3 separate regions of the Homo sapiens genome follow, and all the other regions are linked to region 3. A link means that fine-mapping ties the variant in region 3 to the expression of a gene that starts in the linked region. Tissue or cell type: whole blood. Region 3 holds a variant in brackets; each other region holds the start of a gene. Each region is shown on its reference strand, or each on the opposite one.

Region 1 (10,357 bases), not on the chromosome of region 3:
CATGAGCCGCTGCACCCAGCAGGCAGCATTGTGTTTTCTTAGTGGTATCAAAAATAATAATAATAATAACGCTACATCATATAGTAAATGGATTTTTAATTCAATAAAAAATGTGATATAGTACTAGCTCTGCTACTTGCTAACTGAGTGACTTGAGTCAGAAATCACTTAACCTCTTGGTGCCTCAGTTTTTCCATCAGTAAATTAAAGGTAAAATAGTCCCTACCTCAAAGGCAAGTTTGGGGGATTAGGAGAGTTGAAATATGTGAAGCATTTACAACACTGCCTGGCATGTAGTAAGGTAGATTAATACTCACCATCTTATGGATGAGAAACAGGCTCAAAAAGCATTAAATAACTTACCCAAATTCCCATCCCATAGGTACGCACCTGAAATTCAAACCCAAATCTATCTGGTTCTATTATACTTCCTAATCCCCAAGGCTCCCTGATTTATGCAAATTTAAGCATCTCATATTGTCCCTACTCCCATACTAAGCAAAAGTCTGATCATCAAAAGTTTAAATAAAAAAGTTGTCAGATAATATGCCTTGCTAGCATTGGCAACATTTGACAGGTATCAGATGGTTATTAATGAATTCAATCATTTAATTTACAGGTGGAAGTGGTATAAACTTTTGCTTTTTGCCAGCTGCATTGTGAAATGGTTTTCCTCCCTTACTGTTTAGGTTTTAAGGGTGTAGTTTTTGTAATTTGGGAAGTTAAAAGGAAAGACTGGCTTGGCCCAAAACTGCCTGTGAAAAGCTGCAAGCTGACACCATAGTGAAGTCAGAGGTGGAGCCCATGACTCTGGAGTTCTCTGTCCACTTCAGTAGATAGTTATGATCCCATTTTGGGCAACAGAAATGACTGATCCAAAGTAGATATGCAAAGTGATAACTCACCATTTTGTTGTCAAATCCTCCTGTTATCCCCAGGCAAAAGTCCTGCCCATATCTAAGGACTTGACCAGTGGCATCTCTGTGTACACTGTCAGTGGACAATAAGTATAATGTAAATGTAAACTCTCTGTATTAGAATCATTCTATGACTCTATTTTTTATGCATGCAATTTTGTTTATAATCAGTTTTTTGATAATTTATATTCACATACTGTAACTGAATTAGGTAATTAAATAAAAGGTGTTTTCTTTTGGTCTTAAAATCCAGCTAGCACCCTACTCCCTGCCCTGCACCATAGCTAGCACACAAAGCATCCCCACTTTGTGAGCCTCTGGTTAGAGTAAACTAAGCACATCTTGCTAATGTATACTAAGGAATTCTGGTCAAGTGCATTGACATGTTCAGAGAGAACCAAGGTAACACATTTGTAGACATTTAATACGGTTCCCTCTTAATCCTTCAGGATAACAGAGGTTGTGATCAATTTTTACTTGTCTTAACATATGTATTCAAAGGAAATCTAAATTAGAACTTGAAGAACTGTCTATATATTCTTTTTTTTCCCCCAGGCTGGAGTTCAGTGGTGCAATCTTGGCTCACTGCAACCTCCACCTCCCAGGTTCAAGTGATTCTCATGCTTCAGTGACACAAGTAGCTGGAATTACAGGAGCCTGCCACCACGCCCAGCTAATTTTTTGTATTTTTTGTAGAGATGGGGTTTCGACATGTTGGCCAGGCTGGTCTCGAACTCCAGACCTCAGGTGATCTGCCTGCCTTGACTTCCCAAAGTATTGGGATTACAGGCATGAGCCACTGTACCTTGCCTGGGTCCATATATTCTTGCAATGCTTACATTGCTGTCATACGAATTAGTAATAGTTTTTAATTGTGATCATGTATCTATTTCTTCTCTAAGGATTTAATTGTTCATTTTCAAAATCTCTTCAAATACATTTTTAATGGACAGTTAATTTTAAAAGAGAAAATCCCATCTAGTGCCACATTGTATTAAACTACACGTTTTTATTGTAAAAAAAAAAATAGCCGTATTAAGAACAATGAAAACACTCAAATGAGCTCAAAAAGTTCCAAAATGTTATAGGGAAAACCTACTTTGCTTCCAGGCAGAATATGGATTTAATTCCCTGGATCCTATACTCATGATTTAAGCATTTTGAATTGAACACAATTATCCTGCTGTCTAAGGTAAAAAGGGATTGTAAAGTTCCTTTGACAATAATTCTCAAGGTAAGCAAAGCAAGATGAAAATCACGAAAAATGTTCACAAAACCTTTCCCTCCACTCAGTGGCTCCAATACCCAGGAATCTTTAAGCTACAAGTGAAACATATTTATGATGAAAATGAACTGAAAATTAAAGTCTCTTTACCTCAAAATGATAAAAGTGTTTCTGCCAATTGGGGTCTTGGCTTGAACTGCGCTCAGGCCACAGGGTACCTCTAATTCGTCTTTCAGATGGGACTGAATTTCATCTGGAGTCATACACAGGCTCAGGTCCCCACGCAGAAACACATCAGCTTCTGTGTCAGGATCATCAGGATTCACAAGCATCACTTTGTCACCGTAATGAATATAGCCATCTTCAGTTACGGAAAGTTGCATCTACAATTTTGATAGTAGTTTATTACATAAACCATGCAATTCCTCAACAGTTACTGCCAAGGCAATTTTCTTCCTTCTCGGACTAGTACCCATTTCATTCAGGATTTCACTTGGATTCCCTCGAACCCTTAGTTCCTTCTTCCTTTCCCTTCCCCTTTGCCAAGGCAAAGCTCCCAATAATTCCAAATGAAGTCGAATAAAGCTGGTTAAAATCACATGGATTTACTCATTATCCTAGAAATTCAACATTCATTGAAAAATTTGTCGATTACCAACTAAGGGGCATTTTACTTATTTACATATTAACTCATTTATTTCTTTATTTGTAAAATGCAGGTAAACATGATTTAGGGCAGACTGTTTATGTTTCTAAAATCTTAGAAGAATTTAAAACATTGCAAATTGTTTTTAAAAACTGTTATTTTCCAAATGGTAACTCAGTTATGAAATTTTTTTCTTGCTTAACATATACTCACACCAAGTTCAACAGAATTTTGAAAACAATGTCTGAATTTAAAGTTACCGGTCTCAATAAACATACGTGTGCATGTGTCTTTATAGCAGCATGTTTTATAATCCTTTGGGTATATACCCAGTAATGGGATGTCTGGGTCAAATGGTATTTCTAGTTCTAGATCCCTGAGGAATTGCCACACTGACTTCCACAATGGTTGAACTAGTTTACAGTCCCACCAACTGCGGCACTATTCACAATAGCAAAGACTTGGAACCAACCTAAATGTCCAACAACGATAGACTGGATTAAGAAAATGTGGCACATATACACCATGGAATACTATGCAGCCATAAAAAATGATGAGTTCATGTCCTTTGTAGGGACATGGATGAAGCTGGAAACCATCATTCTGAGCAAACTATCGCAGGGACAGAAAACCAAACACCGCATATTCTCACTCATAGGTGGGAATTGAACAATGGAGAACACATGGACACAGGAAGGGGAACATCGCACACTGGGGCCTGTTGTGGGGTGGGGGGAGGGGAGAGGGATAGCATTAGGAGATATACCTAATGTTAAATGACGAGTTAATGGGTGCAGCACACCAACATAGCATATGTATACATATGTAACAAACCTGCACGTTGTGCACATGTACCCTAAAACTTAAAGTGTAATAAAAAAAAAAAAAGTTACCGGTCTCAAGAGATTCTGTTTTAGTCTTCTACTTCTCTGTATGAGAAGTTTCCCCTTGTCTCTCTTCTCTAAGAAGTCTTTCATGAGCTCCTAAACAGAAAATCAACAAAAGTAGCCCTGAATAATATAGATGTTAGTATTAATAACTTTTAGGTCAGAAGCTCTTCCAAGTTGAAAAAGCAAAATTTGAGTACAAAAAAAGAGATGTGAGCATAATTGGAATGATGGAACGTTTTTAGCACTACTTTAATATTTTTACTACATTATAGAATGTTTAGAAAAATGAGAAAGGCAAAACAAAGAAAAAGAAACATCACCAGTAATTACTCCAGCCAGATACCATCCTAAATGACATTTGGAGGCCATGTCTCCCCTGCTGGGGTTTCCCTTGACCGTATGATGACTGACACTAGAAAGTTCACCCCTCCCCAATCTGACCCGTATACGAATGGCTCAAAGCCTTGTTAAGACCACCCTTGGGAGAATACGAGGCAGTGAGTGAGTACAACGTCAATAAAAGGAATACTCAGGGTCATTTAAGAGGGCAAGCGTGGCAGGGTTGGAGTGGGGAGGGATATTATTTCTACCTAGAACCTGTGTCCTCACCTGGCCCGCAGCCTGAGACTGTAAGACTCTAAGGAATACGGGGGACTTAGTGGGGCTCTAGACTAAGCGGGAGACACAGGCCAGGGGCTTGAGAGTCAAGGCATCTGACTTTGGGAGGCCAAGGGACCCAGAGAAAGAAAAGTCAGGGTGCTCGGAGTAGAGGTCAGTGAGACCTGGGTTTGCAGTTCGGCAGGTGAGATTCCTTGGGAGTTTAGAGAAGTGGGGGATTTTAGAGGTATTCGCTGTATGCTGGGAGAGAGAGGAGGCTTGAGGCGCTCAAAGTAGGAGACTGAACTTAGAGCAGGGTCTGGGAGTTCCTGAGCTGCGGGTCTGCGCCTGGCCACACCCTGCGTACCTCCTCCAGGTAGACATCCTCATTCCAGTTGCCTATCCGGACTCCCGGACCATACACGTTCTGCGCCATCGCTCCCTGCTGTTCAGCAAGTGGGCCTCCCTCCGACACCATGCGTTAGCGTGGCGCGTCGCCATGACGACCCGGCCCCAGGCGATTGGTCAAGGTCTGGGACCCTGCTGGCCAATAAGCGACAGCGCGCACCCTCGCCCTGGGGCGGGAGATGGGGCGTCTGGGTCAGCGGCTGTCTGTGGCCCTCCAGCCCGCCCCACTTCCACCTCTTAGATTTCCTTAACTGCAGGGTGGGCGAGAGGGAAAACCCTGGCTGACAAAGTGCTTCCGAGAGAGAAATTTAAAGCTTTCTTTCTATTAGAATCTAACCGAAAAGTGCTATCGAGTACCCCTTGCTTGTCGAGGCAACAAAGAGGAGCTTTTAAATGGAAGCACGGCTTGCTTGCAGCCTATTTTTTGTAATCAGCAGCAGCAGCAGCAGCAGCAGCAGCAGCAATTTCGCCCTAATCATAAAACAATACCTGCTCAATGTACACATTTGGAAACCAAAATCGCATAGAAAGAAGAAAGGAAAATTAATAATTTCAGGGCCTTAAAAGTAAGAAATATACCATGTTAGTATATTTCTGTTTATAGGTTTCTGAGGTTGTCCATATTTTTGCGGACTTGACAGCATCCTCCCTCCCTCCCTCCCTTGCTCCCTCCTTCCCTGGGTCTCAAAGTTAAAGGACGAACCTGTGATTTGCAGGAACTCTTAAGAAAACCAGACTCTGCTGTAGCCAGCATTAATAAAACAAAATATTATTTTCTGGGGAGGGGAGGGATACCAGTTACTGTAGGACTACCGGAGGCTTGATGCAGATTGAATGCATTCAGTAATTTACCTCTATTTAGTGTCTAGTAAGACATGACTGAAATGGAAGACAGGAGCCTCCGCTCCCTTCAGCAAACCCAGTCTAAAAGAAAAGATAGTTCATGAAAACGAATTACTTAAGGAAGACTGTGGAAAAATGCAATTAAAGATGTGCTGATGGGCTGGCGTGGTGGCTCAAGCCTATAATCCAGCACTTTGGGAAGCCGAGGCAGGAGGATCACTTGAGCCCAGGAGTTCTAGACCAGCCTGGGCAACATAGTGAGACCCCATCTCCAATTTAAAAAAAAATACATATATATATATATATATATATATATATATATATATATATATATATATGCTGATGAAGGGCCATGGAGTTGAAGGATCCTTTCTGTCTTGAGGAACTGTGAGAATGGGAATTGGATGGCCTTTGAGTGATGGGAGAGGGGCTGCTTTGGAGCTGAACTGGGAAGGATTTGAACTGGCAGGCTGAAGTGTAGAATAAAAATAGGAACATTCCCACATTCTGATGAATCCACCAGCTCTGTCAATATATCACCACATTCGAGGATACTTCTGAAGGACACATAGGACAAAGCAGTTAGATCAGATAGTATACCACTAACTGCATTTGATAAATTCAGAAACTGAGACTCAAAGAAGCTAGCAGTCTAAATTCAAACTGCTAAAAGTTGCTCAAAGAAAGGACTCAGTCCAAACTTTCCGACTCCAAAGTCATGTTTGTTTGTTTTTCCTTTTAAGTATTTTTCATATTCCTCATAAAATCAAGAATAAAACAAAGCAGCTCTAGTCTCTACATTTTTAACAAGGTTCTAATGATTGGGTCATTCAGTAAGTCCTTACACTGATACAGCTTTGCTCCCACCTACTTCCTTAGTGCTATTTTTGACAAGTATATTACATTTCTATATATAATAGACCCAATAATACAATTATACATAGTGTTTTATACAATTGCTTTAAATCACTCAGGAGAAGAAATATCTTTATTGGTGCTCTATGGTATTTTTCTATGAACACAAATTACTGCTTTGTGTTGTTTTCAACCTGAATAACTTCCTTCCATATTTCTTATAAATCAGGTCTGCTAGCAACACATTCTCTTGGTTTTTGCTTACCTTAATAAGATGCTTTTTCTGGATACATGATTCTTTGTTGATAGCGTTTTTTTCTTTCTTTCAATATTTTAAATATGCCATCCTACTACCTCTGGACTCCCTTATTTCTTTTTCTTCCAAGACAGAGTCTCACTCTATCAACCTGGCTGGAGTACAGCAGCACAATCTCGGCTCACTGCAACCTCTGCTTCCCAGGTTCAAGCAATTCTCATGCCTCAGCCTCCTGAGTACCTGGGGCTAAAGGCATGTGCCACCATGCCTGGGTAATTTTTGTATTTTTAGTAGAGATGGGGTTTTACCAGGTTGGCCAGGCTGGTCTTGAACTCCTGACCTCAAGTGATCGGCCCTCCTCAGCCTTCCAAAGTGCTGGGATTACAGGCATAAGCCACCCTGCCCAGCCATGGCCTCCATTATTTCTGATGAGAAATCAGCTATTAATCTTATTTTGCTTCCCTTACACATACTCTTGCTGCTTTCAAGATTTTTTTTGTCTTTGTCTTTAATATTTTAACTAGATATATTTGGATATTGACCTCTTTTCTTTTATCCTGCTTGAGCTGCCTGAATATGTAAATTAATGCTCTTTTCATCAAATTTGGGGAATTTTCAGGCCTTATTGTTTGGAATATTTTTTCTGATCCTTTGTCTGTCTTCTGTCTTTATGAAACTCCCATCATGTGTATATTGATGCACTTACTGATATCCTGCATTCCTCCAAGATGCTATTTGTTTTTCTTCATTTTTTTCTCTCTGTTCTTCAGATTGCATAATTTCTATTGATTTGTCTTCAAGTTTGCAAATTTTTGTTTTGCTGGCTCAAACTTACTGCTGTATTCCGCTAGTGAGTTTTTTATTTTGGTTATGGTACTTTTCAACTACAGAATTTACATTCGGTTATATTTTATAATTTCTCTCTATTGATATTTTATATTTCATAATGAAACACTATCATCATACCTTCCTTTAATTCTTTAATCATGGTATCCCTTAGTTTTTTGAACATATTTATAATGGCTGCTTTGAAGTCTTTGTCTGCTAAGTCCAACATCTGGGCTCTGTCAAAGGCAGTTTCTGTTGACTTTTTTGTTTGTTTGTTTTTTATCTTCTTTCTGTCTGTGGATCACAGTTTTCTGTTTCTTTGCAGGTCTCATGATTTTTTGTTGAAAACTAGACATTTTAGATACAGGAATACATCATTTTATTGCAATTCACTTTATTGCACTTTGCAGATATTGATTCTTTTTTTTTTTTTTTTTTTACAAATTGAAGGTTTTTGGCAAGCCTGCATCAGGCAAGTGTGTTGGAGCCATTTTTCCAACAGCATACGCTCACTTCACGTCTCTGTGTCACATTTTGGTAATGCTCAAGATATTTCAAACTTCCTTATTATTATATCTATTATGGTGATCTGTGATCAGTGATTTTTGATGTTGCCATTGTAGTTGTTTGGGGCACCATGAACCATGGGCATATAAGATAGCAAATCCAATCAATAAATGTTAGGTGTTCTGACTGCTCCACCTACCAGCCATGTCCCCATCTCTCTCCCTCTCCTCAGGCCTTCCCAGTCCCTGAGACACAACAATATATAAATTAGGACAATTAATAACCCTAAAATGGCCACTAAGTGTTCAAGTGTTCAAGTGAAAGGAAGAGCCAAATGTCTGTCTCTGTTTTGTTTTTGTTTTTGTTTTTGAGATGGAGTCTCGCTCTGTTGCCCAGGCTGGAGTGCAGTGGCACGATCTTGGCTCACTACAACCTCCACCTCCCAGGTTCAAGCGATTCTCCTGCCTCAGCCTCCCAAGTAGCTGAGACTACAGGCGCATGCCACCACACCCAGCTAATTTTTTGTATTTTTAGTAGAGAGGGAGTTTCACCATGTTAGCCAGGATGGTCTCACTCTCCTGACCTTGTGATCCACCTGCCTCGGCCTCCCAAAGTGCTGGGATTACAGGCGTGAGCCAAGTCTGTCTCTTAAATAAAAAGCTAGATATGATTAAACTGAGTGAGGAAAACATGTCAAAAGCCAAGATAGGCTGAAAGCTGGGCCTCTTGCATAAAGCAGTTAGCTAAGTTGTGAATGCAAAGGAGAAGTTCTTGAAGGAAATTAAAAGTGCTATTCCAATGAAAACACAAATGATAAGAAAGTAAAACAGCCTGTTTCTGATATGAAAAAAGTTTTACTGGTCTAGATAAAAGGTCAGACGAGCCACCACATTCCCTTGAGCCAAAGCCTAATCCAGAACAAGGCTCTAATTCTTTTCAAGTCTATAAAGACTGAGAGAAGGTTTAAGGAAAAAGCCATCTTCATAACATAAAACTGCAAAGTGAAGCAGTAAGTTCTGATGTAAAGGCTGCACCAAGTTATCCAGAGGATCTGGCTAAGATCATTGATGTAGGTGGCTGCACTAAACAACAGATTTTCAATATAGGCAAAAAAAAAAAAAAAGCCTTACATTAGAAGATGTCATCTAGGACTTTCACAGAGAAAAAAGTTAATGCCTGATTTTCAATGTAGGCAAAAAAAGCCTTACATTAGAAGATGTCATCTAGGACTTTCACAGAGAAAAAAGTTAATGCCTGATTTTCAATGTAGGCAAAAAAGACTTACATTAGAAGATGTCATCTAGGACTTTCATAGAGGAAAAAGTTAATGCTTGCCTTCAAAGCTTCAGAGAACAGGATGAGTATCTTGTTAGTGGCTAATGCACCCCATGCTCATTTACTATTCTGAAAATCCTAGGTGATATGGTTTGGCTGTGTCACCACCCAAATCTCATCTCAAATTGTAGCTCCCATAATTCCCACATGTTGTGGGAGGGACCCAGTGGCAGATATTTGAATCATGGGGGTGGTTTTCCCCATACTGTTCTCGTGGTAGTGAATAAGTCTCATGAGATCTGATGGTTTTTTAAGAGGTTTCCCCTTTAATTTAGCTCTTTTTTCTCTTGTCTGCCACCATGTGAGATGTGCCTTTCACCTTCCACCGTGATTGTGAGGCCTCCCCAGCCATGTGGAAATGAGTCTATTAACCTCTTTTTCTTCATAAATCACCCAGTCTCAGGATGTCTTTATCAGCAGCATGAAAACAAAATAATACACTAGGTCCCTTAAGAATTATGCTAAATCTACTTTTCCTGTGCTCTATAACTGGAAGAAGAAAGCCTGGATGACAGCACATCTGTTTGCAGCTTTGTTCACTGACTATTTTAAGCCCACTGTTGAGATCTACTGCTTAGAAAAAAAAAAAGATTTCTTTCAAAATATTACTGTTTATTGACAATGCACCTAGTCACCCAAGAGCTCTGATGGAGATGTACAAGGAAATTAATATTGTTTTCATGATTGCTAACATAATATCCATTCTGCAGCCCATGGATCAAGAAGTAATTTCAACTTTCAAGTCTTATTATTTAAGAAATGCTTTTTTTTTTTTTTCTCGAGACAGAGTCCTGCTGTGTTGTCCAGGCTGGAGTGCAGTGGCGTGATCTTGGCTCACCTCTGCCTCCTGGGTTCAAGCGATTCTCCTGCCAAAGTGCTGGGATTACAGGCATAAACCACCACAACCAGCCAATAAATACATTTTTAAGGCCATAGCTGCCAAAGATAGTGATTTCTCTGATGAATCTGGGTGAAGTAAATTGAAAACTTTCTGGAAAGGATTTGCCATTCTAGATGCCATTAAGAACATTTGTGATTCATGGGAGGAGG
Region 2 (10,083 bases), not on the chromosome of region 3:
CCTCCCAGTTTCAAGCGACTCTCCCGCCTCAGCCTCCCGAGTACCTGGGAGTACAGGCACCTACCAGCATGCCCAGCTAGTTTTTGTATTTTTGTAGAGATGGGATTTCACCATGTTGGCCAGGGTGGTCTTGAAATCCTGATCTCAGGTCATCAGCCCGCCTCAGCCTCCAAAGTGTTGGGATTACAGGCATGAGCCACCCTGCTCGGTTTTAATTAAATTATAACTTGTTTACCCTCTTTTCTCCTTGTCTAGCAGTAGTCCAACAAGGAGTTTGGCATGCACAATCCTCTCAATCTATAATACCTCCCCTCACTTTTACCAGGGTAGCTACCATCCTTCCTTCTGGAATAGCTTGCCTTTTACTTTCTTGAGGAAACCTCTCCAACCCTTACTCCTACCTTTGAGGAGGACCCTTTTATACCCTCTCATAGCATTCTGTACTTTTCCTTCATGAAGTTTTCTCACCGAAGTTACTGTAGAGTTTATTGAGCCTGTGTGTTTATTGTCATCCGTTTAAGGTCTCTCTGTTCTAGCTTCATGTAAGCCTCATGAGGGCGGGGACAATGCTTATCAACTTCATCTCAGTTCCTAGGACAGTGCCTAGCACATACTAGGTATTCAAAAAGCAAGTGATTTTGGCTAAACAAGTCCCCTTGTCACTCTAAAATTAAAAGAGCAATTTCATTTAAATACATATTCTTAGGTTATACTTAACATTTCCCTATCTAAATGACAAATGAGGTTCTGTCTCATCCCAATCTTGATCAGTACTTCAACTTCCCTTGTCCCTCAAATTTACTATATAAATACCTAAGAATAGGTATTTATATGAAATTGCTCTTTTATGAAACACAAGAAAAGGAAAGAAAGAAGATTAATCATATTAGTATGTATGTACATACATTCACACTCCAGTTGGATTACATTATACATGTTTATATTGGCATGTACTTGTATATATTAGAATAGGCTATGAGTCTTTTTTTTTTTTTTTTTTTTTTTTTGAGACCAAGTCTCACTGTCGCCCAGGCTGGAGTGCAGTGGCATGATCTTGGCTCACTGCAACCTCTGCCTCCCAGGATCAAGTGATTCTCTTGCCTCGGCCTCCAGAGTAGCAGGGACTACAGGTGCGTGCCACCCTGCCCAGCTAATATTTTTGTAGTTTTAGCAGAGATGGGGTTTCACCATGTTGGCCAGGATGGTCTTGATCTCTTGACCTCATGATCTGCCCGCCTCATCCTCCCAAAGTGCTGGGATTACAGGCATAAGCCACCAGAGTCTTTTAAAGAAGCTCTGGAAACAATATACTCTCTGTATATTTTCTGTCAATTACATAGTACCTATCAAAATATATGATGTATTTTCCTTTGTATAAGTATTCATCAATCAAATATTAATTTATTGATATTAATCGATAATCCTGTTACATGCCTATTATCTTTGTAGGATCCTTATGATCTGGAAATTATAAAGATGAGGAACTTTCAGTCTAAGTTAAGGTTTTCTGCTGCAAATATACTCAGTTTTCCCACAGAACAAATATTTTCCAGTAAGAAGAGTGGAAGAAAGGGGAGAAGAGGTGAGGGGAAGAACTAGAAAAGAGAAGACTAGAGGAGACAAGGATGAGAGGAGGAGGGTGTTGGAAGGGACTATGACTTGCCTGTTTTTTCCTTTCTATTTTCTTCCTTCTCTCCTTTTCCTTCTTCTTCTCTTCCCTCCCCTTCCCTTGCCTACTCTCCTTCTCTCCCGCCATTCCTCATTTCTGCTTATTAGTGAGAAGTTAAATAATTATATTTAAAAGAGTAGGAGAAGAACGCAGGTGCCCCAGTAGAAATCACAACCAGCAGCCAACACCAACAACCTCTCATGTGAATTAAGCCATTAAAATGTTGTTTTAAATTATTTTATTATTTTTCTTATTCTTAAGAAAATGTTGTGGGTACATAGTAGCTGTATATATGTATGGGGTACATGAGCTGTTTTGATACAGGCATGCAATGTGAAATAAGCATATTGAGAATTAGGTATCCATCCCCTCAAGCATTTATCCTTTGGGTTACGAACAATCCAGTTACATTCTTTATGAGTTATTTTAAAATGTACAATTAAGTTATTATTGACTATTGTCACCCTATTGTCCCACTCTTTATTTCAGCCATTTCAGCTGCTCTTGACTGCACTCAAGTGAGCTTAGCAGAAGAAACTCACGCTAACATACAGAATTATCAGAAACAATAAATTAATATTTTAAGCCACTAACAATGAGGTCGACTTATTACACAACAAAAGAGGATTAATGGTACTTGTTAACAATGCTCTAGAACATTATGTTAGAATTTCCTTAATGAATGAGCATGTAAGGAAACTAGGTAACTTTCATATATTTGAGATTTAACAAATGATATTAATCAACATAATTTAAAACACAAATTCTGAGTCTGGCAAAACTTTGAAGTATTGTATATAATAGCGCCCAGAAAGATACTTCCCCTCAACTTCTTCACCCTCCCCACTGTCCTCCCATTTTCACCCCATGCTTCACCTCTGGGCAGTAGACAGTAAAACCTCAATTCACATCTGAACAATTCTTGTCAACTCATAGTTATACAGTAAGCACATTTGGTTTCAGCCCTTACAGAAAAACTTTTGATGGCTAGTATTTTAAATTTATTGATTAAGATACTTTAATGAACAGACTCAACATTGTACTATCCTTAGCATTTTTGGTACTAATTGCTTTTATGATTGATTTGCTTGTGCTAGTCTATTTCCTTCATACTTGAAAGAAGGATTTGGGAAATGTGCGTTAAAAATGTTCTGTGTGAGGCAGAGAAGTCATTTATGCCTTAATTTTATAGATAGTGGTCCTCCAATGTCTCTAGATATTTTCTTTTAAAATAGCTAACATAAAATGTGCTTTGAGTCTTAGATAATTTGCTTGCTTCCTTCATGACTCTGCTATTTATAAGATGACTTAAAGAAAAAAGAGCTAAAATAACTTAGCACCCCCCAACACACACATATACAAACCCACAATGACAATGTAAGATTAATAAAAAGGCTGTCAAGTTATTTTAAAAACAAGGAACAAAATAACTCTTCTCTAATTCTAGCATTTATTTAAACAATAATTTTGCATAACAGTATGCTTTTAACTGAATAAGTTTTTAAAAACATCTTTTAACCAGTTTTGTACACTCAGTTTATCATCATCTTTACTGTGTTTCTCAACGTGGAAATGGAAGGGAATGATGCAAATGACAGTAACAGCAATTAACAGCAGCAGTTGTCATCATAGCAGCAAGAGTAGAGTATTTTTCATATCCCATTGCTTTCCACAAATATTTTAGGCCTGACTTTTAAAAAATAAATAATTAAATGACCAAGTCATGCAAAGAGAACTTCGTAAAACCTGTTAGGAAGTTCAGGCTTAATCAACTGATGCTTAATCAATATTTTTTGAGTTAATAAAAACTAGCAAAATATTGTTTTATATCAAATGCTGACTGATATCCTTAAGAAATTTTGATGACTCAAGAAATCTGTTACTACTTCCTCACGAATTTTGCCGACGATGTGTCTTTCGTGACAAGCCACATTTGTTGATTAAGACAATGACTCCATGATACTGGAGTCACCTCTTTCCTGGTATTAACCCACCAGTTGGTTTCCTGGTAGGAAAGAGCCTACCTTTTTCCTGGTATCAACTCACTCAAAAGCATCATTACTTCAGAAAACTTTTCATACAGTTTTCTTAAAACGATTAGGAACTTTTAGGAAATCTTACTAATGAACGAGGAAAGAAATCTGGATAACGTTAAGTAGGGGGAAAAAAGGTGTCCAGTGAAGCCAATAAACATTTTCAGCAATGTATTTTGGTGTTGAACAGAAAATGAAATATACTATGAATAGTGTTAAAAAAAAAACCTTTATATCTTGTTCTGGAAATGGCTTTGATCTTATGTTTGAAAATGTATATGACTTGCGAATTCACAATATCTCAATCTCAATAATGAAGAAAAGCTATAAAGTCACCCCACAGGAGGAAAGAGAAAGAAGTCTGCTCCCCTCATTTTGTGTCCTGCTGAGCTTATCTCTGCAATTAACTCCACATCTCAACTCTCAGAAGACTCCGAACTCTCAGCTTACACCCTTCCTTTAAGCTTGCTTAAGACTAGAAATTTCTATGTTGTGACAGGGAGAAAAATCATTCCAATTAAATATGCTCTACTGCTAAACTCTAATTTAAAGAAAACAATAAATGAGGTGGAGAAAAATAAGAAATACATTCATCAACTGAAACTAAGGCTAGTGAGGCAGAAATAATTTTATACATGTTTATTGAAAGCCAACTGGGAAGACAGACCTGGGAAGACACATCCACAAAGTTGGGGGTGTTCTAGAGTCTTTCACAAGTTACAAGGGCTTTATATAATAGAAAAGCTTAAAATAAGGCAGAAAAACTCCTCATACCAGAGTTGTCTTCTTTTTCATTGGAGGGTACAATACCGAAGTTAAAATCATTAGCTACAGATTACAGCATACAGGCTAAATGTCTACATACAAAACAATCAATAAAACTTTTTGTTTCAGCTAAACTTAGAAATAAATCATTGTCCTATTTAGTGTCAGTAGGTTCTACAGTAATTAGTACATCAATCATTTGAGGAACTCGTAATAAAATACTTTACTCAGAGATAGAATGTCACCATCAAGTCACGAAACCTTTCCAGGGCGAGTTAATTTGGAAGTCTGCTTACTTCTAAAGTAAACTGTCAAATGTGGTCTGTAGGTTATCGCATTTAAAAACAGGACCTGAGAACTTGAGTAGACATAGTAGATAACTATTAAACAATAGGGAAAATTGGCTTGAAAACAAAAACATGATTTAAAAAATTACTATATTCATCTTTTTGATAGAGAGTAATTTTGAACATTTAGTATTTTAAGCATTTCTTCTAAAATTTAAGGATATGAAAAGTAAGAAAAGAATATGGAAAATTTAAATAATATTCTGTGAGACTTATACATAGTTGTAAAAGGAAGAAAACTTGTTGCCAGTGCCACTTACATCTGCCTCTTCTTTATTGACAATCTTCCAAATAAATTTAAATAGCATAGTTGCTTTGGGTCCTGTCGAGTTTGGCCTGGAATTGTAGGTGATTAGAAAGGATAGGGAAGCTTTCATGTGATACGTATTCATTGATTTATTAATTATTTAAGACCTACTTTATATTGAAGTATCCTACATGTTATAGGATACATGAGACATTCAAACAAACACAGGACATGCCACTCCCTACAAAAGTGCATGGTTCAATTGAGGAAGGAAGTCTTACAGATGGGACAGAGAACCAGAAAATAACATAAAGCCAACATGTAATGTGTAGGTCCACCTCTCTATCTTTGTAGGGATATAGCATTTCAGACCAAAACCTTTAATTTGGGTCTGAGAATTCAGGAACAAATATTTTCCTTGGTAAGGACATTTCTTGCACAATTTCTAATAGTGCAAAATTGGAAACACCGTGAAGGGCACCAACAAGGCAAGGTTGAGTAACTATTGTTCTTATCACAGGACGTCACATGGTCATTAAGAAGAATGGGGGAAAACTACATTAAGATGACCTGAAAAGATAAGGAACACATATTTTTTGAAGGATAAAAGTCAGCTGTATAGTGATCCATATACAATACTTCTATGTATATGTGTACCTCTATGTCTTAAACGTGTCTCATTGTATACATATACATGTGTGCATATAAGTGCAGACAGAATTGAAAACTAATGCAAAATTGTTACCAGTGTTTACCACTGAATAGTAGGAATGTGGAGAAATGATGAAGAGAAATTTGTGTTTTATTTCAAAGACATCTGCAGCATACGAATCTTTTGCAATAAATTATATAATTTTTCTGTTAAATTAAAAATAAAAAGAAAAATAAATATGCTGGGTCCTACTTTTTAGGTATTCTTAGGTGGTAGAAACAAGTAGCTTCTTTTGTAATATAAAGGAGGATGAGTTTCATTTGTAGTTTCTAGATGAAATTACAAAAGATAATATAGATTGAAGGCAGAAAGAATCCAATAAGCTAAAATCCAAAGACAACCTTTGACGGTAATTGGCTCTTATTTTACTTACATGCTCCAAACCAATCCCAATATTTATCAACATTCATGAAAAGAACATTTGCTTTCTTTGGCAAGCAAAGATAACTTTCTCTTTCAAGGGCCACATGTTTGTGCCTTCAGGTGCTCCTAAAGTTTCTATTAAGCCTAAAAACTGCAGTATAGAAAAGGCAGGGCGTATTGTTATAAATCATACAAAGAAAATGCATGTAGTATTTCAGTCTAGTTCTTACCTTCCTGAACGGAGTTCTTACACAGGTGTAAGGAAGATAAGTATTGAGAAAGGGAGAGTGGGAATGTGAAGTGATGCACATTAAGCAAGTTAGTAGGAATTTGACCTGTCTGGTCTTTCTCTGGGTTGGGCACAGCTTCAAATGCTTATGTGTGTATCACCACATACCCTCACTTCCTCCTTTCCTACCTCTTCCTTCTTACTGGCTTTGAGAAAGAGCATATAAATGACATCTTCAGGGCATGAGAAGCCACTTATCTGCAGACTTGTAGGCAGCAACTCACCCTCACTCAGAGGTCTTCTGGTTCTGGAAACAACTCTAGCTCAGCCTTCTCCACCATGAGCCTCAGACTTGATACCACCCCTTCCTGTAACAGTGCGAGACCACTTCATGCCTTGCAGGTGCTGCTGCTTCTGTCATTGCTGCTGACTGCTCTGGCTTCCTCCACCAAAGGACAAACTAAGAGAAACTTGGCGAAAGGCAAAGGTAGAGGCCCTGCTTCTCTGCACTTGTTGCTGCTTCTGCTACACCTGTCTCTGGGGTAAAGACTAGCTTGGTGCCTTTGGGGCTGGAGAGGGCCATTATACCAATAACTCCAATTGGAGGAGACACACAGGGGGGTCACTTCTCACTTCTTGTGTGCTGGGCAATCTTCTGGGCACTTTACTAAAGCGTTACAGATCATATTCACAATGGCTTTATGAGAGAGGTACAATTGCCCTCAATCTGCAAATAAGAGACCTGAGGAAAATATTCATGACCACCAATAGGTCACATTTTCTACCCTAGAGGAAAGTCTAGACAGTGACTTGTATGCTGAACTCCGCTGCATGTGTATAAAGACAACCTCTGGAATTCATCCCAAAAACATCCAAAGTTTGGAAGTGATCGGGAAAGGAACCCATTGCAACCAAGTCGAAGTGATGTAAGTTGCTGTTTCTGTGCTATTGCCTTATCAGAGAAACCCTCTACCTCCATCCACATATGCACTCGTTTCCTCCAGTCTCATGGATTAGTTCTGATATTCAGATCAGGACACCCACAGATAACCCTGTTCTCTTTTGCAGAGCCACACTGAAGGATGGGAGGAAAATCTGCCTGGACCCAGATGCTCCCAGAATCAAGAAAATTGTACAGAAAAAATTGGCAGGTGATGAATCTGCTGATTAATTTGTTCTGTTTCTGCCAAACTTCTTTAACTCCCAGGAAGGGTAGAATTTTGAAACCTTGATTTTCTAGAGTTCTCATTTATTCAGGATACCTATTCTTACTGTATTAAAATTTGGATATGTGTTTCATTCTGTCTCAAAAATCACATTTTATTCTGAGAAGGTTGGTTAAAAGATGGCAGAAAGAAGATGAAAATAAATAAGCCTGGTTTCAACCCTCTAATTCTTGCCTAAACATTGGACTGTACTTTGCATTTTTTTCTTTAAAAATTTCTATTCTAACACAACTTGGTTGATTTTTCCTGGTCTACTTTATGGTTATTAGACATACTCATGGGTATTATTAGATTTCATAATGGTCAATGATAATAGGAATTACATGGAGCCCAACAGAGAATATTTGCTCAATACATTTTTGTTAATATATTTAGGAACTTAATGGAGTCTCTCAGTGTCTTAGTCCTAGGATGTCTTATTTAAAATACTCCCTGAAAGTTTATTCTGATGTTTATTTTAGCCATCAAACACTAAAATAATAAATTGGTGAATATGAATCTTATAAACTGTGGTTAGCTGGTTTAAAGTGAATATATTTGCCACTAGTAGAACAAAAATAGATGATGAAAATGAATTAACATATCTACATAGTTATAATTCTATCATTAGAATGAGCCTTATAAATAAGTACAATATAGGACTTCAACCTTACTAGACTCCTAATTCTAAATTCTACTTTTTTCATCAACAGAACTTTCATTCATTTTTTAAACCCTAAAACTTATACCCACACTATTCTTACAAAAATATTCACATGAAATAAAAATTTGCTATTGACTTGTTGTCATCTATTATTAATTTTAACAGGATTGTTGGGGAAAAAAAGCTTTAATTTTCCTCTCTTTTTTGTATACTTGGTATTTCACAGTTTGAACAACAAAAGTTACTAAATTGATGATCGGTGTCATTCTTAATGTAGTATGATAACAGTTCCAATTTATTAATCATTTTAATATGCCAGGAATACTAAGTGTTTTCCATGCATGAACTAAACAATTTTTTAAAAGATAGATATGATCTGGTTAAAAGAACATCCTCTGGAGTTTGAATAATGAGGTAACCTGGCTCTGCCACTTGTTAGCTGTGTATATCAGGTCATGTTGCTTAATTTCTCTGTACCTTAGGTTCTTCATCCCTAAAATGGGGATAATATTGCCTCCCTCATAGAGTTTATGGAAGGATTAAAAAAGTTAATAAATTTAAGGTATTTAAAATAATGTGTGTCATAAATAAGCCACACATAAATGTTAGTAATTATTTCTTATGATTATTATTATCCTCCCCAGTGTTACAGAAGAGAAAAATCAAGTTTATAGAGTTTAAAATACTTGCCCACTTTCAGATAACTAAGTAGGTAACAGAGTGGGAATTTCAAATTGTGCTCTTAACCACCACACCACAGTGCTTTCCTCAACTCTTCTTTCTCTAATGAAGAGATTACATTACATATAACATAGTATTATTCACACATGTAATACAACTTGATACATAAATAGCATACTGTATATACTATAATAATTATAGGGTATCAGGCATCTCACTCATTATGTTTAGTGGTTTCCCACTGAAACTTGACAAGACCAGCTCCTGAGACATGGCACAGTGTTGACACCATGCTTATACCTCCCGAGATGCAGATGTCTTCTGTTTTTGAGTGCATGTATTGAGTTACTCTGTTTACATGCAGAGAAAGAATGATTCAGTTGCCACTCAGGACCACCTGGATTCCTTTACACTGCAAACATTAAAATCTGGGTGTAAGACTGTAAAAACCCAGCGTGTTGCCCATCCATATGCAAAATCATCCCTCCCCTTCATTCTCTCTGCTGTTAACTCAGAAGGGGCTTCAAGTTTCAGGTTCATAAACACATATGAATTACAAAACATTCTGCAACAGCCATTGTGTTGGATACAGGATATTCAAAAATACAGTCATGTTTTGCTTAACAATTGGGATACATTCCGAGAAATGCATCATTAGGTGATTTTGTCATTGTGTGAACATCACAGGGTGTGCTTACACAAACCTAAATGGTATAGCCTACTACAAACCTAGGCTATATAGTACAGCCTATTGCTCCTAGGCTATAAGCCTGTACAGCATGTTACAGTGCTGAATACCATAGGAAGTTGTAACACAATGGTGAATATCTGAGTATCTAAACATCTGTAAATGTAGAAAGATATAGTAAAATTATGGTATAAAAGAGTAAAATGGTACACCTCTGTAGGGCAGTTACCACAAATGGAGCTTGTAGGACTGGAAGTGGCTCTGGATGAGTCGGAGTGTGAGTGGTGAGTGAATGTGAAGGCCTAGGACATGACTGTACACTTCTTTAGGCTTTGTAAACACTGTACACACTTAGGCTACACTAAATTTATAAAAAATATTTTTTCCTCAACAATAAATTAACCTTAGATTACTGTGTTTTTTATTTATAAACTTCTTAATTTTTAAACTTTTTGACTTTCGTAATAACACTTTAAACGC
Region 3 (10,357 bases):
TGGCCTGGGAAAGTGTCTGGACACCGCTGCTCCATTTGTCTAGAGTTCATGGTGAAGCAGGCAGAGGAATTGTTCAGGTTTTACTTGGATTAACCACCCTTCCAGCTTTGAGGAGTAGATAAAGACATTCAATAAAAGTGCATGACTGTGAGCAACTCTCAGGCTCTAATTTGATATTCTTTTTATTTCTCACTGGCTTGCTGTGCTTTATGCCTCCCTGATAACCTAGTAACACCCAAATTTTGTTTTTCCTTAGTGTTACCTGAATTTGTTTTTGAATTTTTGTTTTTCCTTAGTCTTACCTAAATTTGACAACAGTCTTAGAAACCTAAGATCTGAGAACTAATAATCTTATGATGTTGGAACCTTGGGTAAGCCAGTGTGCAATATATTATTTTAATTTGGTCACGGCTACCATCCCATTTGAGATTTTTTCCAACCTTTTTTTTTTTGGTCTTTTTTTTTTTCTTTTTATGGAGAATAGGGTCTCACCATGTTGTCCAGGCAGGTCTTGAACTCCCGGGCTCAAGCCATCCTCATGTCTCTGCCTCCCTAACCACTGGGATTACAGGTGTGAGCCACTGCACTGGCCCATGAGTTTTTTTTTTTTTTTTTTTTTTTGAGATGGAGTCTCGCTCTGTCACCCAGGCTGGAGTGCAGTGGTGCAATCTCGGCTCACTGCAAGCTCCGCCTCCCAGGTTCACATCATTCTCCTGCCTCAGCCTCCTGAGTAGCTGGGACTACAGGTGCCCGCCACCACGCCTGGCTAATTTTTTTTTGTATTTTTAGTAGAGACAGGGTTTCACCACGTTAGCCAGGATGATCTTGATCTCCTGACCTCGTGATCTGCCCGCCTCGGCCTCCCAAAGTGCTGGGATTACAGGCATGAGCCATCGTGCCCGGCCTTGGCCATGAGATTTTTTTACTACCTATTTTTAAATTCAGTTTGTGGAATTTTAAAATTTGAAGTATCAAATGGGGTATGTTTAAAGACCTTGAAATTCCCTTTCCAACTGTAAGATTTTGTGACATTTCTGGCTTGTTAAGTACAAATAAGAAAGACATTAAGGAACCAGGATAAAGTTCAAATGGAAAGAATCATCGTTGCTTGCCAACTTTTAATGAAGAAGTAATTCTGCTAAAATCTAAATATTTTATTTTATGTAAATGAAATTCTCACAACCCTGACGAGTATGTTCCTTATAATATCTTTGGTAAGGAAATTGCTTGGAACTTCTCAACAGAAAATACCCTCAGATATATCGAACAAGAACACAGGAAACATGGTTCTGGTTCTAGTGATACCATGACACTTTTGGTGACACCTTAGTTAGGTCCCAGTTTTGGTGCTAATCTCTTTAGAGCCCAACAAGAGGGGTTGTTACCAGTTTGGTTATTTAACCAGCTGTGGGAAAACAGGGTTCATCTTTGCATCGTAGGCACCCTATAGGTAGTTTCCTGTGTATAAATATATGATTCAACTCTATATACTGAAAGAAAAATACCATACCCTGAAAACCTATGCCCCCAGAATTTTGTAGGTTTTTTTCCCCCTTTTAACATTTCTCTCCAATCTATGTAGAATTTATGTTGGATGAGTATGAAGAAGGGCTTTAAAATGAGGCTTTTCATTCCAAGAGGCAAGTGAATTGTCCCATTGTTAGCGATCCTTCTCTAGTGGTTTGTGCTCTAATATGTCAGATTCTTGAATATCCCAGAGCAGGTTTCTCGCTGTGTCTTCTGAGGGCTGTATGCTTGTAGCAGGAGCTCTGAAGTAAGCTTGCTAGGCCCCACTCCTGACCAACCTCACCACCTCTAGGCCACGTGCCATGGGTAGGCGTACACCACCTTTTTGAGTCTCAGTTTTTTTAAATCTGCAAAAAGAAAGATAATAATAAGGCCTACTTTGGGACTGTTGTGAGGATCACGTGGGAAAATACATGGTAAGTGCTCATATTAAAACATAAAAAATCCTTAGTCGCTGTGGTTTCAGTAATTGTGGCTGTATGATATGTTAATATCCACACACAGGTGCACTTTCATCATGAGTTATCAACATTGGCAGAGGTAAGAGGAATGGACAATGAGAAGTGACATTTCAAGTGTATCTTTCGTATTTGCTAAATGTCCACAGGGCAGGTGGCTAAATGAGTTAATTTCCTTCCATACCATAGCATGCTCTGCAGTAAGAGGTCAAAAATGTGCGTGACAGGGAAAGATGCCCTGGATGTTAAATGAAAAAAGAAGCAAGTGGTAGAACAATGTTATCATTCTATTTTTGAAAAAAATAAGATGTTACACCCAGCAACTCGTGTTTTTAGACAGAAGGAAATGTCTGGAAGGATTACCACCAGAGGGTGCAAACTGGTGGCCCCTGGGCCAAATGTAGCCAGCAACTGTGTTATGTGGCCCATACAGTACTTCTTATGGTGATGAATAGTTGCCAGCATTTACAAATTGAGAGATTTTACATAAAACCCTGAATTTCAGGCTTCTATTGAAAAAATTAGAATGTCTGCTCACCCTGGATGATTAACCCCTTAGGAACCCGAAAAGCTGGAACTGACCTAAGACAAAAACTCTCAGTGGTGCCCCAGTGCCCACCTGGCCTTTTCTTTCAGGTACCTGACCCCTGCTCCTAAATCCTTTTGGGTTTATGAACCTCTGTCTACGTCTGGCTTTTTAACACCAGTGCATCCAGCAAATGGGATCGGGATAGAAAAAAAAGTAGGGCCTTTGGGAAGACTCACTTTTTACTTTATATACTTCTTTGTGGTTTGAATGTGTATACTTCTGTGTGGTTCGAATGTGTGACAGTGATGCTATGTTACTATTAAAATGTAAAAACCAATACATAAACATGTTTGAATACTTAGTAGTATCCTAGATGCCATAGAGAAGACTCCTGTTCCTTTTGATATCCCATTATAAAGCTCAAAATGAACGTGGACCTTGCGGATCAGAGCCTCTTACTATTGAAATTCTCCTCTTGAAGTGCCTTCTTCATGGACCCATTTCAATCCGGGAGTTCTTGCTTCTGGTCAGAGCAAGGGCATCAGAGGAGACGGCCGTGCCCTGTTTTTGCTTCCTTTTTGCAGGCTTGCATCCCTTTCCCCTGCCAGGGCATCTGTTGGCCCTCTCTCTGCCCCTCCCTGCTCCACTGCTACCTGCCCTGGAGCCCCTCAAGTTTCACCTCTTGCACGAAGTGCTGCAGCCCACGGGTTTCAGTTCTTCTTTCCCATTCAGTCAGCAGCCGGAAGTTAGGTTGAATCATTCTAGGATTTGTTCATGTGAATGTTTCCTTCCTCCTCTCCAAAGAAATAAAACGTACAATGCCCTGGTCGTCTCACATTTCCAGTGAATCCTTACTGGGGTGAGGCTGGCCTTGGCTGCTGGGACTCCTTGAAGTGGCTTGTCAGAAAATACTCCAAGAGAGGAATGGCTGGGTGATGGAGCCTCCCGCATTTCCCAGGGCACTGTCTTTCTTCATCGGCTGAATTGTCCCCAAAGCTAGCTAATCTCAAGTTGTTTACAGGCTTGTTCAAATTTAGGACCCTTCCTGTGTAGGAGGCTGGAACAAGACGCCTTAGGAATACCTGCCCTTACCCCTCCACCAGCCACCACTTAACCAGCTTGCTTTGTGGGGAGTCAGGCTTTAGGAAATAGGGAATCCCAAGGACAATCTGAAACCCACCTCTCAGTGGACACTGTCATTTGATCTGACACTCATTACCGAGTGCTTCCAGGTGCTAGCTCCATGGTGACCCAGATGCTTGCCTGAAAGGCGTAAGGCTTTTTACAGTGATTTCACTTCCTCCTTTCTCTAAGCAGGTGTGATTCCCTCACACTTTTTGAAGCAAGACCCAAGCCTGTCAGTTCAGCTTCCAGACCTATTAAAGTACTTGGTGTCTTCCAAAATACCCTGTAGTTCTGCACTGCCTTGCTGTTGAGTTTGCCAGTTCTTTTGCCTAGAACACCCATCAGAACGCTGCCCATGTGTCTCTGGCTCTGAGAACCCTTCTCAGACTTTGTCCCCATGAAAATGCATTTGCCAAGCTCACTTATTTCCTGGACCCCTCAGCACTTTTTGCAAATTTCTGGCAACGTGAATGGAAAGAGCCTGCTTTCTCATAAAAGTCTTGGATTTAATCTCCTTCTGTTAGACCGGAAGCTTGTTGTTCAAATGAACCTGCTGTCTTTGCTGGGTCCCCAGACTTTACTCAGGCTTGAGACAGAGGAAGGCTCTTAAAAATCCGTGCATTTGTAAGAAGGCCCCAGGAAACCCTGGGCTAAATCTTAACAGCTAAAATTTGTAATTAGGAAGATTTTTGCAAGTCAAATACTACCCCATTAGATAACTAAAATAAATAAATAAATAATTGAGAACTACACTGGAGTTATGTCTCCTTGAGTTTGAGACCTTCTGCCAATGTGCAAGGAGGGTGAGAGTGCTGGTTTGTTTGTGGGGAAGGAGTGAGCCAGGCATAGTTTTCAATCTGAAACCTTGTAGTTTCCTATGAGACAAGTCTACCTCACCCAAGAGGTCTGGGTTTTTTATAAGGCAAGGAACTGGAGCAAGATGTTCATTCTGGTGAGATCCCCACTTCATAAAACAAGAAATGTCAGCCATGAATTATTTCCATAATAGCTCTGAGCAGGAAGACCTCTTGTTATCCATGACAAAAGTTGAAAGGGAGGTTTCCAGAAGCAGCTATTTTGAAAGGGCTCTGAAGAGAAGATGCCAGGTTTGCATAAGACAAAAAGAAACGGATGGGTGTGTAGTTGCTTTTGAACCGCGACTCAGTGTGGGCTCTGTATCCCGGACAGGGCTACTGATTCTTGGGTAAAGTTCAAGTAGATCATTGATTCCTCTTTGAAGACCCAAAGCTCTCCTCCCAGTGTCCCTTCTCCTAGTGATGCTTTATTTTCTATTTCACCCCAGTGTTTGGGTCTGCAAAGCTCCAGGCAGCACAGCCGCTGCAGCCGATGGGATGCTTCACATTGCTTTTGGTGGGGACCCAGTGAGCACTGTTTGTCTCTTACAGGCTGGGGATTGTCAGTCAGAAACTGAACTTCTGGTGTACCTTTGAATGCCCAAAGAGTGCTCTGCAAAAGCAGCAGTAGCAGGAGAGGTGGGGAGCTCTTGACTGGTGCGGCTCTCAGCCTCTGACACTTGTAACTGATGGCCCCTGTCACTTCCTGTCATGCAGCCCAAGTGGCGGGGAGGAGTTCCTTCAGGGAAACTATGCTCAGCCCTGTTCAGAGAATCCTGTGCACAGGGCTCCACTGCAGTTAGGAGCCGGTGAGTCCGGGTGGATGAGGTCAGAGCGCCCCATGGTGTGGTGCTGCCTCTTTGTCCGTTCGCAGGTAAGCCCCCTGCTGCTGAGCCTGGGATGGGCCGGCTCTCAACTCCCACCCGAGCCGGGTGGGGTGGTGCCAGGATCTGAGGTGTGGGAGGATGCAGTGTTCTCTTTACCTTCCAAGAAACTGATCAGGGAGCTGCTGTTAAAAGCACCTGGGATGATGGAGCCAGATTCCCGCCTCACTTTCGTATGAATCAGAAGAGCACTGTGTGGCTGTGTTTAAGACCGCAGATGGCTTTGCTTGGTTGCGAGGGTGAGCTGAGTGGCGTGCATAGCTGTCAGGGC[C/T]TCCTTTAGCATAAGTGATTGGAGGGGAACAAAGGGAAGGGCTTTTCACGCTCTGCTGTGCAATGCTACTGTTTTAATTTTTGTAAGAGAATGGTTTTAATTAATGGGAAGGAAAAGAGGGAAAAGAAGGATGCATCTGCCTTCTGTTTTGTTGTTGCTATTTAATCACAAAGTGGATTTCCAAGATCTTCTCTTTTTCTTTGGATTGGAAGATGGCTAAACTCAGTTTTAGAAGTTCATGCTGGTTGGAGCAACTGTTTTGTAGATTTCCCTAAAGTGATCCTGGTGTTTTGAGTCTGTTTATTATTGGGAGAGTGAAGTCAGATATTATCAGTGGAGACTCAGACTTGATACCATTCTCATTAAGAACATCGTTTTTTGGTTTGGGTTATTTTGGAAAGAGTGTCTGGAAATGTTATATTTCCATGGGTTGAAGAATGGTTAGGAGCTCTGAAGGTTACATTCCCTATCCCTTTTATTTATTTGTTTTTTGTAGAGGTAGTTGTTAAAGTTTTGGATGAGCCAAAACTGTTCTTTATTTGTTTGTTTGTTTTTGTTTTTTGAGACAGAATCTTGCTCTGTCATCCACGCTGGAATATAGTGGCACAATCACGGCTCACTGCAACCTTGACCGCCCGGGCTCAAGCAGTCCTCTTGCCTCAGCCTCCCGAGTAGCTGGGACTACAGGCATACACCACCATGCCCTGCTAATTATTTCATTTTTTTTTGTGGAGACGTGGGTCTTACTATGTTGCTCAGGCTCATCTTAAACTCTGAGCTCAAGCAATCCTCCTTGAGCTCAAGCTTCAGCCTCCCAAAGTGCTGGGGTTAGAGGCATGAGCCACTGCACCTGGCCTGCCAAAACTGTTTTTTAAAGGCAATGCCCATTGCTTTTTCTATTCTTCTCATCAGAACTATGTTCCTGGGACTGATTTCTGTAACCCTAATTCCAGCTCTTGTGTATGACCATTCTAGACATACTAATTTTTTTTCAATTTTTTTTATTGTGGTAAAATACATATAACACATAATTTACCATCTTGACTATTTTAAGTATATAGTTTTGTGATATTAAATACATTCATAATGTTGTGCAACCATCACCACCATCCATCTCCAGAACTCTTTTCACCTTGCAAACTGAAACTCTATACTCGTTAAACAATAACTCTCCATTCTTCCCTCCCCCATCCCCTGGCAACCACCATTCTACTTTCTGTCTCTGTGATTTTGATTACTCTAAGTATCTCATATAAGTAGAGTCAAACAGTATTTGTCTTTTTTTGACTGGCTTATTTCACTTTGCATAATGTCCTCTGGGTTCATTCAAGTTGTAACGTGTGTCAGAATTCCCTTCCTTTAAGAATATTCCGTTATTGTACATGGTGGTAATATTGCGTGGAGCTCTGAAGGTTAACAGAGAAACAAATACTCAATTTCTCTGTGAATATACGACACTATTGCATGATTATATGTAGTACATATTTTGCATTTCATTATTACCTCTAATAGTGATTGAAAACTACCCTCTGTATTACAAGGCTGAAAGATTTGAGAGCTGTTTACTGCATGCCCCACATTAAACAGTTTTTCTTGTCAATTAATATTGTTAAACGGTGACATACCACATTTTGCTTATCCATTCATCCTTGGATGGGCCTTGGGTTGCTTTCATGTTTTAGCTGTTGTGAATAATGCTGCTATGAACATGAATGTACAAATATCTCTTAAGACCCTGCTTTCAATTTTTTTCCCATAAGTCATTAGAGTACAGCTAGTATTTGGTTACATGAGTAAGTTCTTTGGTAGTGATTTGTGAAATTTTGTTGCACCCATCATCCAAGCAGCATACACTGCAACCTATTTGTAGTCTTTTATCCCTCACTCCTCTCTCACCCTTCCCCTCAAGTCCCCAAAGTCCATTATATCATTCTTATGCCTTTGCGTCCTCATAGCTTAACTCCCACATATCAGTGAGATCATACGTTGTTTGGTTTTCCATTCCTGAGTTACTTCACTTAGAATAATAGTCTCCAGTCTCATCCAGGTTGCTGCAATGCCGTTAATTCATTCCTTTTTATGGCTGAGTAGTATTCCATTGTATAAATATACCACGGTTTATTTATCCACTCCTCGATTGATGGGTGTTCCATGATTTTGCAGTTGCGAATTGTGTTGCTATAAACATGCATGTGCAAGTATCTTTTTCGTATAATGACTTCTTTTCCTCTGGGTAGATAGCCAGTAGTGGGATTGCTGAATCAAATGGTAGATCTACTTTTAATTCTTTAAGGAGTCTCCACACTGTTTTCCATAGCAGTTGTACTAGTTTACATTCCTGCCACCTGCTTTCAGTTTTTTTGAGTATATACCCAGAAGTAGAATTGCTAGAACATACAGTAATTCTATTTTGAATGTTTTGAGTAACCGCCATACTGTTTTCCACAATGGCTATTCCATTTTATATTCCCACCTACAGTGCACAAGGGTTCCAGTTTCTCCACATCCTCACCAACACTTCTAATTTTGATTTTTTTTCAATAGTAGCCATTCTAATAGGTGTGAAGTGGTATCACCTTGTAGTTTTGATTTGAATTTCTCTGATTATTAGTGATGTTGAGCATCTCTTCGTGTGCATTATTGGCCATTTGTATGTCTTCTTTGCAGAAATGTCTGTTCAAGTCCTTTGCTCACTTTCGAATTGGGTTGCTTATTTTTTTTGCTATTGAGTTTTAGGAGTTCTCTACATATTCTGAATATTAATCTCTTTTCAGATATATTATATGCAAATATATTATCCCATTCTTTGTGTTGTCTCTTTGTTTTGTTGACATTGTTTAGACATAGTTTTTTTTGTTGTTGTTGTTGTTTTTTTTTTTAGGAGACAAGGTCTTGCTCTGCCTTGCTCGAGCCCAGGCTCGAGTGCAGTGGCACAATCATAGCTCACTGCAGCCTTGAACTCCTGGGCTCAAGCAGTCTTCCCACCTCAGCCTCCTGAGTAGCTGGGACTACAGGTATGCACCACCATACCCAGCTAATTTTTTAACTTTTTTGTCAAGACCAGGTATTGCAATGTTGCCCAGGCTCGTCTTGAACTCCTGGCCTTAAGTGATCATCCCACCTTGGCCTTCCAAAGTGCTAGGATTATAGACGCAGGCCACTGCATGCCCCCCAGATGTATATTTTTAATACTTTGATGTGACTGGGGTAATTTCAGCCTTTCCCCATCTCACTCACCTCACTATTTGTTCTCTTGACAAAGAATAATTTTTGAGTCTTTCAAGTATGAAAGTTGACAATATTCAAATGATTGATTACATGTCAGTGATAGTTAATACAATGTTAATAACAATATAATACGATAATAACTTACATTTATTAGATGCTTATCTAAACACTTTACTCAGATTTGCTCATGAAAGTCTTACAACACTGTAGGGATTGGCTACTATCATTATTCTTGTTTTGCAGATGGCAAAACTGAGATTTACAGAAGATAAATAATTTGTCTAGGTCACCTACATGGTTAAGTAGTGGATCAGGTTTCAAACCCAGGAAGAATGGATTCAGAAATGATGTTTTTAGCCATTAGGTGCTATGTGATAACTTTAATGTGGGGTCCTTCCCAGATCTCCTATTATGTGCAACATCTGCAGTAACACTTTGCTTTCCAATGATTTGGTAAGTTATCCCATTTTGGTGAATGTTTGCTGTGGTCCAGTTAGTGCCTAAGTAAGAGGCACCTATGACAAGTCACTACTTTCTCTGGACTCAGTTTCCCCACTTGTCAAATCAGAGATGTCTCTAAACTCATTTTAGCTCAGATATGAATCTAAAGTATGCAAATATCTTGCACAAAAAGTCAAAAATAGTTTTCATATCTGCCCTACTTCAAAGTCAAATGATTTAATGAATGATTTAATGAATGATTTAATGAATGTGTTTAAGTACACATTTCCCAAGGATATCAACTAGAACTCAAAATGTAATTGGCTGACTAGCTACTTTATTCTGCTTATGAACATATATATGTATATATATATGTGTGTATATATATATGTGTGTGTATATATATATGTAATTTTTTTTTTCTTTTAGAGACAGTCTTGCTCTGTCGCCCAGGCTGGAGTGCAGTGGCATGATCATAGCTCACTGCAGCCTTCACTTTTTGGGCTCAAGTGATCCTCCCCCATCGGCCTCTGGAGTAGCTCAGACCTTAGTGTGTAAGGGCTTAGCAACAACAGGACTCTGAAGCACCTATGTCCTGAGGTAAACATGGACGTAGTTTGATTTTGTGGAGGGAAGGAAGCAGCATATTCGATGCAAGGTGGAGACTGCATTTTAAAGCCACTATTCTAGCCATGTTTTTACAGCTTGCCCAGGACGCCAAGTAGGAGCCATGGAAGGGGAAGTTGATTCAAACTAGATCCTAAAAAGGCCTCTCTTGATGGAACACTCAGACGTGTGACTCGGAGCGGGCAAGGTCAGAGTGGTGACCCCAGCTGTTCACCGGGACAGAAACAATGGGTGGCTTTAGGACCTAAATATAGACAAAGTGGATGTCACTTAGGGAAACTCATTCCTGATACTGGCCGGGGTGGGCAGTTCTCTTGGGAAGCAGCTCCTGTGTGCCAACCCTTGCTCTGCCAGCCCTCTTTTTCTGAATATCTCTGTCCATATTCTAGCTTCCCTGCATTCTTTGGGCACCT

Evidence for each region. PIP is the estimated chance that this variant, and not a neighbour inherited with it, causes the effect.
Region 1: it holds the start of CFAP161, and the variant in region 3 is fine-mapped to the expression of CFAP161 in whole blood (TOPMed, PIP above 0.99).
Region 2: PPBP starts here. The variant in region 3 is fine-mapped to the expression of PPBP in whole blood (TOPMed, PIP 0.96).

What each region holds. Positions count from the first base shown.
Region 1 is chr15:81,128,684-81,139,040 of GRCh38, reverse strand. CFAP161 (cilia and flagella associated protein 161) reads right to left here and starts at 4,771. Exons shown (of 7, transcript NM_173528.4): 1 at 4,643-4,771; 2 at 3,682-3,771; 3 at 2,293-2,525; 4 at 906-990. The coding sequence starts at 4,711.
Region 2 is chr4:73,984,725-73,994,807 of GRCh38, reverse strand. PPBP (pro-platelet basic protein) reads left to right here and starts at 6,618. Exons shown (of 3, transcript NM_002704.3): 1 at 6,618-6,852; 2 at 7,156-7,291; 3 at 7,434-8,369. The coding sequence starts at 6,705. The coding sequence ends at 7,536. RefSeq lists enhancers at 8,939-9,451, 9,452-9,965.
Region 3 is chr3:56,911,319-56,921,675 of GRCh38, reverse strand. It overlaps a transcript of ARHGEF3 not described here. Among named protein-coding and RNA genes, the nearest start is that of ARHGEF3-AS1, 24 kb to the left of the region's middle. RefSeq lists enhancers at 4,775-4,864, 4,791-5,341, 5,342-5,894 and a silencer at 5,675-5,744. The variant C/T (reference allele first, on the strand shown) is at 5,649.